Linked DNA regions of Homo sapiens: region 1 is linked to region 2. Evidence: fine-mapped expression QTL. A gene starts in region 2. The other region holds a variant in brackets. All regions are shown on one strand. Distances are between the middles of the regions. Region 1 holds the start of SNORA66 (small nucleolar RNA, H/ACA box 66). Region 2 holds the start of DIPK1A (divergent protein kinase domain 1A).

Region 1 (5,378 bases), 120 kb before region 2:
TTGGCCTGTGTCCAGTCCTTGGTCTCAGTTAAGCTATGTCAGTGTTGTGACTCTTGGTCCCATACGTTCATCATCTTAATATCTTAATACTTTTGGCACTTGTTCTTGAATGAAAGAATCTAGGTCAGACAGTATTTAAAATGAGAAGCGCAATATTTGTTTCTGCAGACAAAAATTTGATTTAGAGTGACTCAAGAAGTGTGGCTGAATTTCTCAGAAGTACATGCAGATTTTTCTTTTTGTTTTCTTACTTTTTTTTTTTGAGGCAGGATCTTGTTCTGTTTCCTGGGCTGGGGTGCAATGGCACAATTATAGCTCATTGCAACTTCAGACTTCTGGGCTCAAGCAATTCTCCCACCTCAGCCTCTCGAGGTAGCTGGGGTTATAGGTGTGCACCACCATGCCCTGCTAATTTTTTTTTTTTTTTTTTAATTTTTGGTAGAGATGAGGTCTCATTCTGTCATCTAGGCTGGGGTCCAGTGAGCTGTGATTGTGCCACTGCAGCCTTGACCTCCTGGACTCACGTGTAGTCCTGTAGCTGGGACTACAGGTGCATGCCACCATTAATAATTGCCACCTGGCTAATTAGTTTTTTTATGGAGACAGGTCTCACTGTGTTGCCTTAGCTGGTCTCAAACTCCTGGGCTGAAGTGATCCTCCCACTTCAGACTCCCAAAGTGCTTGAGATTACAGGCATGAACCACCACACCTGGCCTGATTTTTTTCTTGAGTAAGATGGAGTTCTGTAGTGATAATTCACATTGCATAAGGTGAAAATTGGGAATTTGTTAGGAAAAGGTGAGTTACATTTAGAAGTTAAAGTGTTTACCAACATTGATTTAGTTTAGTTCCTTTTGAGAATCTGGCTTAGAAGGACAAGATAAGTTATGGTTGCATTAATATAGTAGGGCACATGAAATGAAACCAAGTACTGTTTGCTTTCCTTTGTTTCAGATGGAGGAGATGTATAAGAAAGCTCATGCTGCTATACGAGAGAATCCAGTCTATGAAAAGAAGCCCAAGAAAGAAGTTAAAAAGAAGAGGTATGTCGTCTTTTTTTTTGTCTTTTCAAGAAAACAGGTTGGGAATGGTTCCCACGTGGGGCAGACTGTTGGTGTAATTGTGCAAACTCGATCACTAGCTCTGCGTGATGTGGCAGAAGCGAAGGGAACCAGGTTTGCAAAAGTAACTGTGGTGATGGAAATGTGTTAGCCTCAGACACTACTGAGGTGGTTCTTTCTATCCTAGTACAGTCTAAGTACTGGTTACTGCATTTTTTTATTGGCTGACAAGTTGCTTTTTGTTGATCTTTCATGTTTTGATCTTTAAATGGAATAGAAAGTAATACTTAATGAACATGTAAGCATAAAGTGATGTGATGGCCCACAAATACAATGTATAGTAATTAAATCAATGTATTTAACATATTCACCTCAAATACTTAACACTTTGTGGCAACAACATTTGAAATTTATTCTCTTAATTGTGAAATGTACGATATTCTATATTCATCATGCTGTGCAATAGAACTAAAAACAAAATCATACTCCTCCTGTTGGAGATTTTATACTTGACTATCATCTGCCCATTCTTTGCACCCACCAGCCTCTGTAACCACCATTCTGCTCTCTGCTTCTGTGAGTTCCATTGTTTTAGATTCTATATGAATATGAAGTATTTGTCTTTTTGTGCCTGGCTTATTTCACTGAGCACAATATTCTCCACTTCATTCATGTTGCAAATGACAGAATTTCCATCATTTTTAAAGACTGGGTAATAATCCATTATGTATATGTATACCACATTTCCTTTATCCATTTATCTGTTGCTATTAATATATAGTGCTGCAATGAACATGGGAGTGCCACTCTCTTGGACAAACTGATTTCAAAACATTTGGGCAAATACCTAGAAGTGGTATTACTGAATCTAACATGTCTTCTATTTGACTTTTGGCCCTATGGTAGTAGGACATCACAGAAGTTGGGGTTTGGGAAAGTTAGCTTAAGATCATACATAAGTAAATGTATTTGAACTTGGATTATTTAACCTTCTGATTGCAAAGTCTTAAATATTCTCTATCAAAATTAAATTTTATTAAAATTTTAAATTAAATATTCTATTCTCTTCAGTTATAGTTTAAAAAATATATATTCCTATCTTTTGTAGGTGGAACCGTCCCAAAATGTCCCTTGCTCAGAAGAAGGATCGGGTAGCTCAAAAGAAGGCAAGCTTCCTCAGAGCTCAGGAGCGGGCTGCTGAGAGCTAAACCCAGCAATTTTCTATGATTTTTTCAGATATAGATAATAAACTTATGAACAGCAACTATTTCTGTGTTAAGCTCTTATTCTTATGAACCTTATAGGAAATACCCTGAAATATTTTGGAAAAGCAAAGGAGTTGACAGGTTTTTTTCTCCAAGAAAACAAGTGTAACTAACTTTTTAAGAAAAAAAGTTGTTATTTCTTGGGCTTCTGTTTTACCTGACAGGAGTCATTATCCCTTATGTTGTATGATGAACAGCTCTCCCTAAAAATTTGGCAAGCAACAGACCAACCATCAGTGGGAAATATTTCTTCCATCCATTTATTATAACCAGATGATGAATGGGAAAAGTACCTTAAAGTAAACAAAACTGGTGCTAATCCATGGCGTTGAAGGAAAGTTTTGAGAGAAAGCTGTCCAGTGATGGTCACATAGATTTTTAACATGTTCCACTTTAGGTAGGCGAAACCTTTGAGCAGAAAATAGTGGTTCTTTTCTCCAAAAGGTGTTTAATTTTATGGAGATGTTGAAAGGTACATGCCAAATCTGAGTATACGTGTGAAAATAATATGAAAGAGGAGCAAATACTAAACCTTGTATATCAAGTTTACATGGGGAAAAAAACATTAGATAAATAAATACATTTACATGCCTCTTTAAGAAATAGCCCTTTGGCCCACAGGATATACTGTTTGAAAATGGAAAGTTATTACTAAAAAGTCTGCTATAATTTATTTTAGTCTTGCACT[T/TA]ACAGTCCCACTTTCACATAGTTCAAAATCAGGATATGTGGATCTTGATTGGGCCTTAAGATGTCAGTTTTGAAGGGCTCAGTCAGCTGCGTGATACTAAGATGGGCCCTTTGAATCTTTAGGAAAGTTCATCCATTTTTAGTCAATAAAATTGGTGTACTGTCAAGTATAAGATTTCTTGAAGTAAGCCACTTGAACCATTGTGAAGCTACACATAACTTGATGTCTGAATGAGGTTAAAAATGGGTGTATAAGTCTTTAATACAGTAAACCATGCTATTAACCCAACATCTGTTTTATAAAGAAGCAAGTTTAACCTGCTTTGCAGTCTTAATTTCTGTTAATGTGCAAACTTTACCATGCTAAGACATTAGTAAATTTATAAATTTTCTTGTTGAACAGCAGCTTCAATGCAAACACAATGCTTCCAGCATTGGTATTTTGGCTAAGGTAAATCTACAAATCACTCACTGTTGATGTTTATGGAATGAAGCTTTTCACAGCATTGGTTTTTAAAGTCAGTCAAAATAGTTACACAATGAATGTACTTCGGAGATGTAACAGGGCTTCTAAAAGGGCAGGAATGACATCTTGGGGACCTGTTGATCCTACACCTGCCATTACTTCAGTGATCACATACTGATGGCTTCTCAGGCCTGGGGGGAAGGAGTTTTGTGTAACTGGCCGGAATTTGAAGCCATTTTTTTTTAATGCTCAAAATTGTTCTTTAAAAGTGGCAGGTTTCTTAAAATGGTAATTATGTCCAAATGAACTAAGAGTCATTAGTGTAGGAAATTTTCTTCCACAATAATGTTTTTAGGTTATTTAGTATCAAAGAATGTTCCATTTCCATTTGATTTGCTGTGACTTTGAGAGCAATACAAGAATAAAGCTGCTTTTCTAATTCTTCACGAATTTCACTTGGAGCACCACGCAGTAGGTAGTCTTTGAGTAACTGACAAGCTTTTGCCAAGTTTGGTTGTATCACTTCTGAAGTACACTTCATTGTACTCTGATCACAGCTAGTTCTACAATCTGTGCCATAGACACAGTCCAAATCAGACTCACAGTGACGATCCTTAATAAGTTCTTTCAGGTTTGTCTCTGGCACAATTTTTCTCATATCCACCATTTTCAAATCATACTTATCATTATATCCTAGGTTTTTGGCACTAGTATCGCACATGAGGAAATTTCCGTAGGGGCCATGGAAAACATCTTCCACAAATTCTAGAAGTCCTATGGCTATTTTGGCCTTTCTTGGCCATGATGGTGTGAACAGCTGATCCATGCTTCTTCTGAACCCAGATGGAATAAAAAGTTCAATGACCCAAGGAAGGCTTATTCCATAAAGAGAGGTATATTCAACACTTTCCATCACATAGAGGTCACCACAGAATCCCATTAATTTGGGGGTATGTTCTTTATCTTGAAGTATCACCATGAGAAGAAATTCATTCAGTTGAAGAAGTGCCCATGCCGACTTTGCTTCTCCCAAGGAAACCTGGCCATCTTTGTCTCCATCAGCCACCGTCAAGATGAGATTAACCAGTTCAGAGAGGTTTCCTTGGTCACCCAATTTTGCCTGTCAAGAATTTGGCTAGTTACACAGAAGGAATGAAAAATACCTCCCATGCAACATACTAAGTTTCTTTACGGGCATTATTAACCATGCCAGAAATAATCTTGGTACTGAATCCCCAAACAGGAACTTAATGTATTATATCTCCAAATATTTATGATACTTCCTAAGTGAACTAGAACCATGCTTTATGTAACTGCAGTAAAACCCACTTTAAAATACTTGTCTGTTTGTTAGGAAATGGCCACTAACTCCCCTGTCCCCTTCAGGCCCCTTAGATAGTTAACCAACAATGTAATTATTCCTCATTCATACATTAAAAAACCACCGCCTCATATGTGGACTTGAAAAATTGTACTGTAATGTACTTACATCAAAGTTACAATAAGGGTCAACTAAAAATTATTTTCCTTTTTTTAGAGATGGGGATCTCACTATGTTGCCCAGGCTGGTCTCAAACTCCTGGGCTCAGGTGATCCTCCTACCTCAGCCTCCCAAAGTGCTCGGATTACAGGCATGAGCCAGCATGCCTGGCCTAATTATTTTATCCTATTTTGTATTTATCACAATAATTATTTTGTTCAAATAGTAGTATTACAATAATGAAGATTAAAAAGTATTTCCGTTAGTCTGAAATACATGTAAAATGGCCAAATAAAAAATTTGAGTGAAAATAAAAGAGCAATGAAAATAAAACTTTTTTCTAAAACTTTGTTTTATTTCTATTTAATCTATATATTAGTATTTCTTTTTTTTTTTTTTTTTTTTTTGAGACGGAGTCT
Region 2 (5,378 bases):
GCATGATAATGGTATTATGATTATGTCTGAAAATATCTTTATCTATTAGAAATGTATATTGAGGTACTGAGATGAAATGATGTGATGCCTGAGGTTTACTTTAAAATACTTTGGTTCAGCCAGGCTTGATGGCTCATGCCTGTAATCCCATCACTTTGGGAGGTCAAGGCAGGAGGACTGCTTGAGCCCAGGAGTTTGAGACTAGCCTGGGCAACACGGCGAAACTCCGTGTCTACAAAAATTAAAAAAATTAGCTGGGCATGGTGGTGTGCGCCTGTAGTCCCAGCTTCTCAGGAGGCTGAGGTGAAAGGATTACCTGAGCCTGGAAAGTCCAGGCTGCAGTGAGCCCAGATGGCACCACTGCACTCCAGCCTGGGCAACAGAAGGAGACCCGTCTCTAAATAAATAAATAAATGAATAAATAAATAAATAAGTTTGGTTGGAAGAGGGAGTGGGGGAGGTGAAATGAAATAAAATACTGATGAGGGTGGCTGATGGGCATATGACAGTTCATTATTGTTTTCTGTTTTCTGAAGGTATACAAATTTCCACAGTAAAACACTTTTTTTTTTTTTTTTTTTTTGAGACGGAGTCGCACTCTGTCGCCCAGGCTGGAATGCAGTGGCACGATCACGGCTCACCACAAGCTCTGCCTCCCAAGTTCACGCCATTCTCCTGCCTCAGCCTCCCGAGTAGCTGGGACTACAGGCGCCCGCCACCACGCCCGGCTAATATTTTGTATTTTTAGTAGAGACGGGGTTTCACCGTGTTAGCCAGGATGGTCTCGATCTCCTGACCTCGTGATCCGCCCGCCTCGGCCTCCCAAAGTGCATGAGCCACTGCGCCTGGCCGTTTTTTTGTTTTTGTTTTTGTTTTTAAGAGGCAAGGTCTCACTCTGTTGCCCAGGCTGGAGTGCAGTGGCGTGATCTCAGCTCACTGCAATCTCCGCTCCGGGGCTCAAGCCATACTCCCACTTCAGCCTCCCGGAGTAGCTGGGACCACAGGCACCCAACCAACTTTTTTTTTTTTTTTTTTTTTTTTGTATTTTTAGTAGAGGCGGGGTTTCACAATGTTGCCCAGGCTGGTCTCAAACTCCAGAGCTCAAGGAATCAGCCCGCCTCGGCCTCCCAAGTGCCGGGATTACACGTGTGAGCCATCGCGCCTGGCCGGTAAGCTTTTTTTTAAACTCACATAAAAGATTACACAGAGGTACCTGGCCTGGGTTGAATTCTAGAAGGGGTTGTGACAGTGTTACTCAAGTGCACAATTACTATTGGTGGTGCTTGCTACAAAGACTCAGTTTTATTCGTACACGCTTAATATCATGGGTTGTCAAATCATGCTTCCAATTTGCAATACGTCACTCATTTCAGGGTAATGACTTACACATACAATTTTCAAACAAAAATGTAAGATTTACTTGCCTCATGATGGTTACCTTCTCAACTTTTTTCATAATTTATAAAAGCACCAGCTGACCCCAAATCATCTACCTCTTGGCCTTTTAATGTAAGCGGTAAAGGAATACTGTCCTCTGAATGCAGCGTTGGCTAACACTGCTGACCCACGCAAGGCATTGATTTGTAGTTGTTTTTCCATCGGAGTGATGGATTTGCGCTCAGCTACTCGCGGTGTCTACTAGGTCCCCCTGGTGACCAAACAGTACACTTAGGCAGTAGTAGGGTTCCAAGGCACAGACTGGCAGCGGAACAGAGGGTGGAACGGGAAATCATGAAAAATTAACACGCGAACCGTACACACGACATGACTGAGAATTACGTTTGCATTACTAGGGTATTTGGGATCCACAGACCAGCCACTAGCCCCTTTCCTTTAAAAAGCAAACACCCATCCGCCTGGTTCAGGCTTATCGGTCTCCACCTCCCATTTAAATCTTGGGTGTGATGGAACGACCCAACCAAGGGGCTCGGCACGAGGCACACGCTGCTTTTTGGAGCCTGGGGAAACACTGGTGTGACAAATTGTCATAATTTTCTAAGACACGGAGGAATGCTACACCACCTTTCCTACCACCGACTTAAGACCCAAGACACTGAGTCAAGGGCAACCGACCTGCGGGGGCCCACGGGGGAGGGGGGAAAGCCCCGAAAACACCAGGGAGAAGGCGGCCCGTCGAGCTCCGCCTGGAGCGGCGCAGGGCTGCGGGCAATGCCCGGAGCGCGGGGTCGTACCCAGGTCACGTCTCGGGGCTCTCAGGATGCGAGGGCGTACCCGGGCGGGACGACTCGGGCCCTGGAGCCCGGCTGGCCGCGGCGCGGGAGCCGCGAGGGCCGCGGTGGGGGGCGTCGGCAGAGCCGCTGAGGGGGCTGGGGAGGGCGCGCCGCCAGGTGCCGGACGGCAGGGGGCAGCGGGGTTCGGGCGGGCACAGACCCAGGGAGGGAGGAGGGGAGCGGGCGAGTCCTGCGCGGCGCGGCAGGGCACACGGCCGGGTGCTCCCGCAGCTGGTGGCTGGGCGGCCGCCGGCCTACCTGGAGGTAATAGGGTTTCCTTAGCCAGGCCCCCGGACAGAGACTCCTCGCCATGGTAATCACACATCGCCCCGCCGCGCTGCAGTCAGAGGCGGACCCGAGCGCTGGCGGCCGGGCTCCCCGCCTCCCCCCGCCTCCCCGCCCCCTGCCCGGCCGGGCCCGCCCACTCCCCCGCCCCCGCCGCGGCGCGCGCCGCGCTCCCCTCGGCCCGGCTGCAGTGAAGGCGGCGAGAGGCCAGAGGCCCAGCCTCCTGCCCTGTTCGCCCGCCGGCCGCCGCGGCTGTCAGAGAGGCTGCTGCCGACTCCGCCATAAAGGGGAGTCGCACCTCGCCTCCGCCGACACAAATCGACTGCGCCTGGAGCTTAAAGGGGAGGCGCGCGGAGGCGGGAGGGGGCGCCGCGGCAGCGGGGGTGTCGCACGCTCGGCGCGGATTGGGGCGTGCTTCTCGCTGGCTGATGCGGCGACCCCCGGACCGCGCTGGCCTCGCAGTCTGCTCCGGCTTCCGGCTCCCCGCGCTGCGCCCAGCTGCGCGTCCCGCCACCCGCCCCGGCAGCACCGACGCTCCCCATGGACTCTTCTCCTGGAGTCAGGACGTGTCTGGACGGGTTGTTTGGAAATTCAAGGGAAGCTTGGGGCTCCTTCCCTGGGGACTGGCTCGTCCTCCCTCGCCCTTGGTGGCGGTCGGGGGAAGGGGGTGTCTGCCGCAGCTGGAGACGCAGACCGGGGCATCCCCCCAGGACTGGGCTCAGCTTCGAACGCGGACAGGGCGCCCCACTGCTGAACTCGGTGCCCCCCTTACCACGCTCCAGTTCGCCTCTAACGGCCTACAACTTTTTTTAAAAATGTACTTTTAAAAAATTCCGACTTTTTTGGTTTATATTGTTTTTAAGACAGCTTCAGAGTTTTCCTGGCCCCGTCCAGGAACACTGATTTCAAAAGAAAACAAAAACAAAAACACCGAATTAAATACAGTCCTGAAGGCAGGGAGCCTGGGACGTGGCCTGCTGCTTGGTTAAGGCTACATAACACAGGGTGTGGTGTCTTTCTTTTGACAATGAGTTCCAAATAAGGGAAAAAAGAGCCACCCTAGTGGGAGAACAGCTGTTGATCCAAGTGACTTGTAATGGAAGAAGCAGCTTTTTTTTTTTTTTTTTTTTTTTTGGCTGCTTTTTACCCCACCTACCACGTTTAAGCGTGATGCTAACAAAGTTTAGGTGGCCCGTTAGAGCTCATTCCGGCCTGTTGCTCTGAGAAGGGGTTTCCCCAGAAGCAAACCATTACTCATTCTCACTTGGTTTTTGCATAAGCCTTGTTCAGGTGCCTTGTTCTGAAGAGATACCTTCATGTCTGCCCCTTCCCTCAACCCACACACAGACACAGGTTTTAAACCTAGGTGATTTTTGTTGTGGTGGTTGTTCTTTCTGTTTTTGAGAGGGGTCTTACCATGTTGCCTAGGCTGGACTCAAACTCCTGGGCTGAAGCCATCCTCCCATGTAGCTGGAACTACAGCTACTTGGTCTTATTTTATTGCTTGCAGATAAACCAATTTTTCATTGATTTTGTTTGGGTCAAGAGACAGTAATTTCTGAGTAAGATAAGGATGAATCCTAGTGGTTTCATTCATTCATTTAATAAAGATTTATGAGTACCCAGGCACCATTCAAGTTGTTTCGGTTACATAAACAAAACAGACAAAAATCCTTGCGCTTGTGGATGTGAGAGAGAGGGGCAATAAATAATAAATGTAATCAATAAAATCAAATTGGATAAGAATGCTAATAAAGGTTATGGGGAAAACACCAAGGGAGATGGGGAAGACTACAAATAGAGGAAGTTTGAGGCAAAAGAGGAGTTCAGTTTTGGAGAAGTTCCATTTTAAGGTATCTATTAGAAATTGAAGTGGAGATCTTGATTAGGCAGTTGTATGTATGAATGAGTCTAGGATTAAGGAGCGTGGTCCAAGCTAGAGGTATATGAGAGATATCAGCATTTAGATGGCGTTTAAAGCCATGAGACTGCCTAAGATCACCAAGGAAGTGAGTGTAAATAAAAGACGACTGAGGATGGAGCTCTGGGGACCAATGCAGCTTTAAGACAGGGTAGTGGGTGAGCCAGCCAAGGAGACTGAAAGGGAGCAGCCAGTGAAGTGGGAGACCCGAGTGAGGTGCCCTGAAGCCGAGTGAAGCTTGTGGATCTAGGAAGAGGGAGTGCTCCTCTGCGAGTGAGCACTGAGAATTGACTGTTGGATTTAGTGACATGGAGGCCATTGATAACCCTTCAGTGGAGCAATAGAGGAAAAACTTGATTGGAGTGGTTTTAAGAAAAAAATGAGAGGAGAGAAACTGGAGGTGGCTAATACAAACAATTCTTTTGAGAAGTTCTCTTACAAAGGGGAGCCCAAATCTGGGACAGTAGAAGCAGAGTCAAAAGAAGATTGAAAAAAAATGGGGAGAGGCCAAGCACAGGAGGTCAAGGCTGTAGTGAGCTATGATCGCATCAGTGCACTCCATCCTGGGTGACAGAGTGAGACCCTGTTTCTTTAAAAAAAAAAAAAAAGAGAGAAAGAAGGTGGTAGGGGGAGAAATACTTGTTTTTAATGGGAATGATCCGGAAGAAAAGGGAAAATTCATGTAGAAACAAGAAGTGAGAAGTGCTGGAGTGGTGTCCTTGAGAGGGAAAAAGCGTTTGAAAACTAACACACAAGTGGAAGGATCATTTGTAGACGAGTACAGACTGTTGATCTATGGAAACAGGCAGGCAGGTGGGTAGGCATGGTAAATAGGAATCTTTGGAAGTTCTCTTCTGATTGCTTCAATTTTCTTAGAGATGTAGAAAGAAATGCTATCAGCTGGGAGGAGATGGGAAAGATTATGTGAAAAGGGAAGAGAA

What was found. PIP is the estimated chance that this variant, and not a neighbour inherited with it, causes the effect.
Region 1: its variant is the best candidate, but not a certain one, in a credible set for the expression of DIPK1A in whole blood (TOPMed, PIP 0.56).

Annotation. Positions count from the first base shown.
Region 1 is chr1:92,839,597-92,844,974 of GRCh38, forward strand. It overlaps RPL5 (ribosomal protein L5), which reads left to right. Exons shown (of 8, transcript NM_000969.5): 7 at 955-1,043; 8 at 2,170-2,328. The coding sequence ends at 2,269. It overlaps DIPK1A (divergent protein kinase domain 1A), which reads right to left. Exons shown (of 5, transcript NM_001006605.5): 5 at 2,571-4,599. The coding sequence ends at 3,787. SNORA66 (small nucleolar RNA, H/ACA box 66) reads left to right here and starts at 1,123; the gene lies at 1,123-1,255. The variant T/TA (reference allele first, on the strand shown) is at 3,015.
Region 2 is chr1:92,958,887-92,964,264 of GRCh38, forward strand. DIPK1A (divergent protein kinase domain 1A) reads right to left here and starts at 2,576. Exons shown (of 5, transcript NM_001006605.5): 1 at 2,490-2,576. The coding sequence starts at 2,543. RefSeq lists silencers at 2,137-2,696, 2,857-2,936.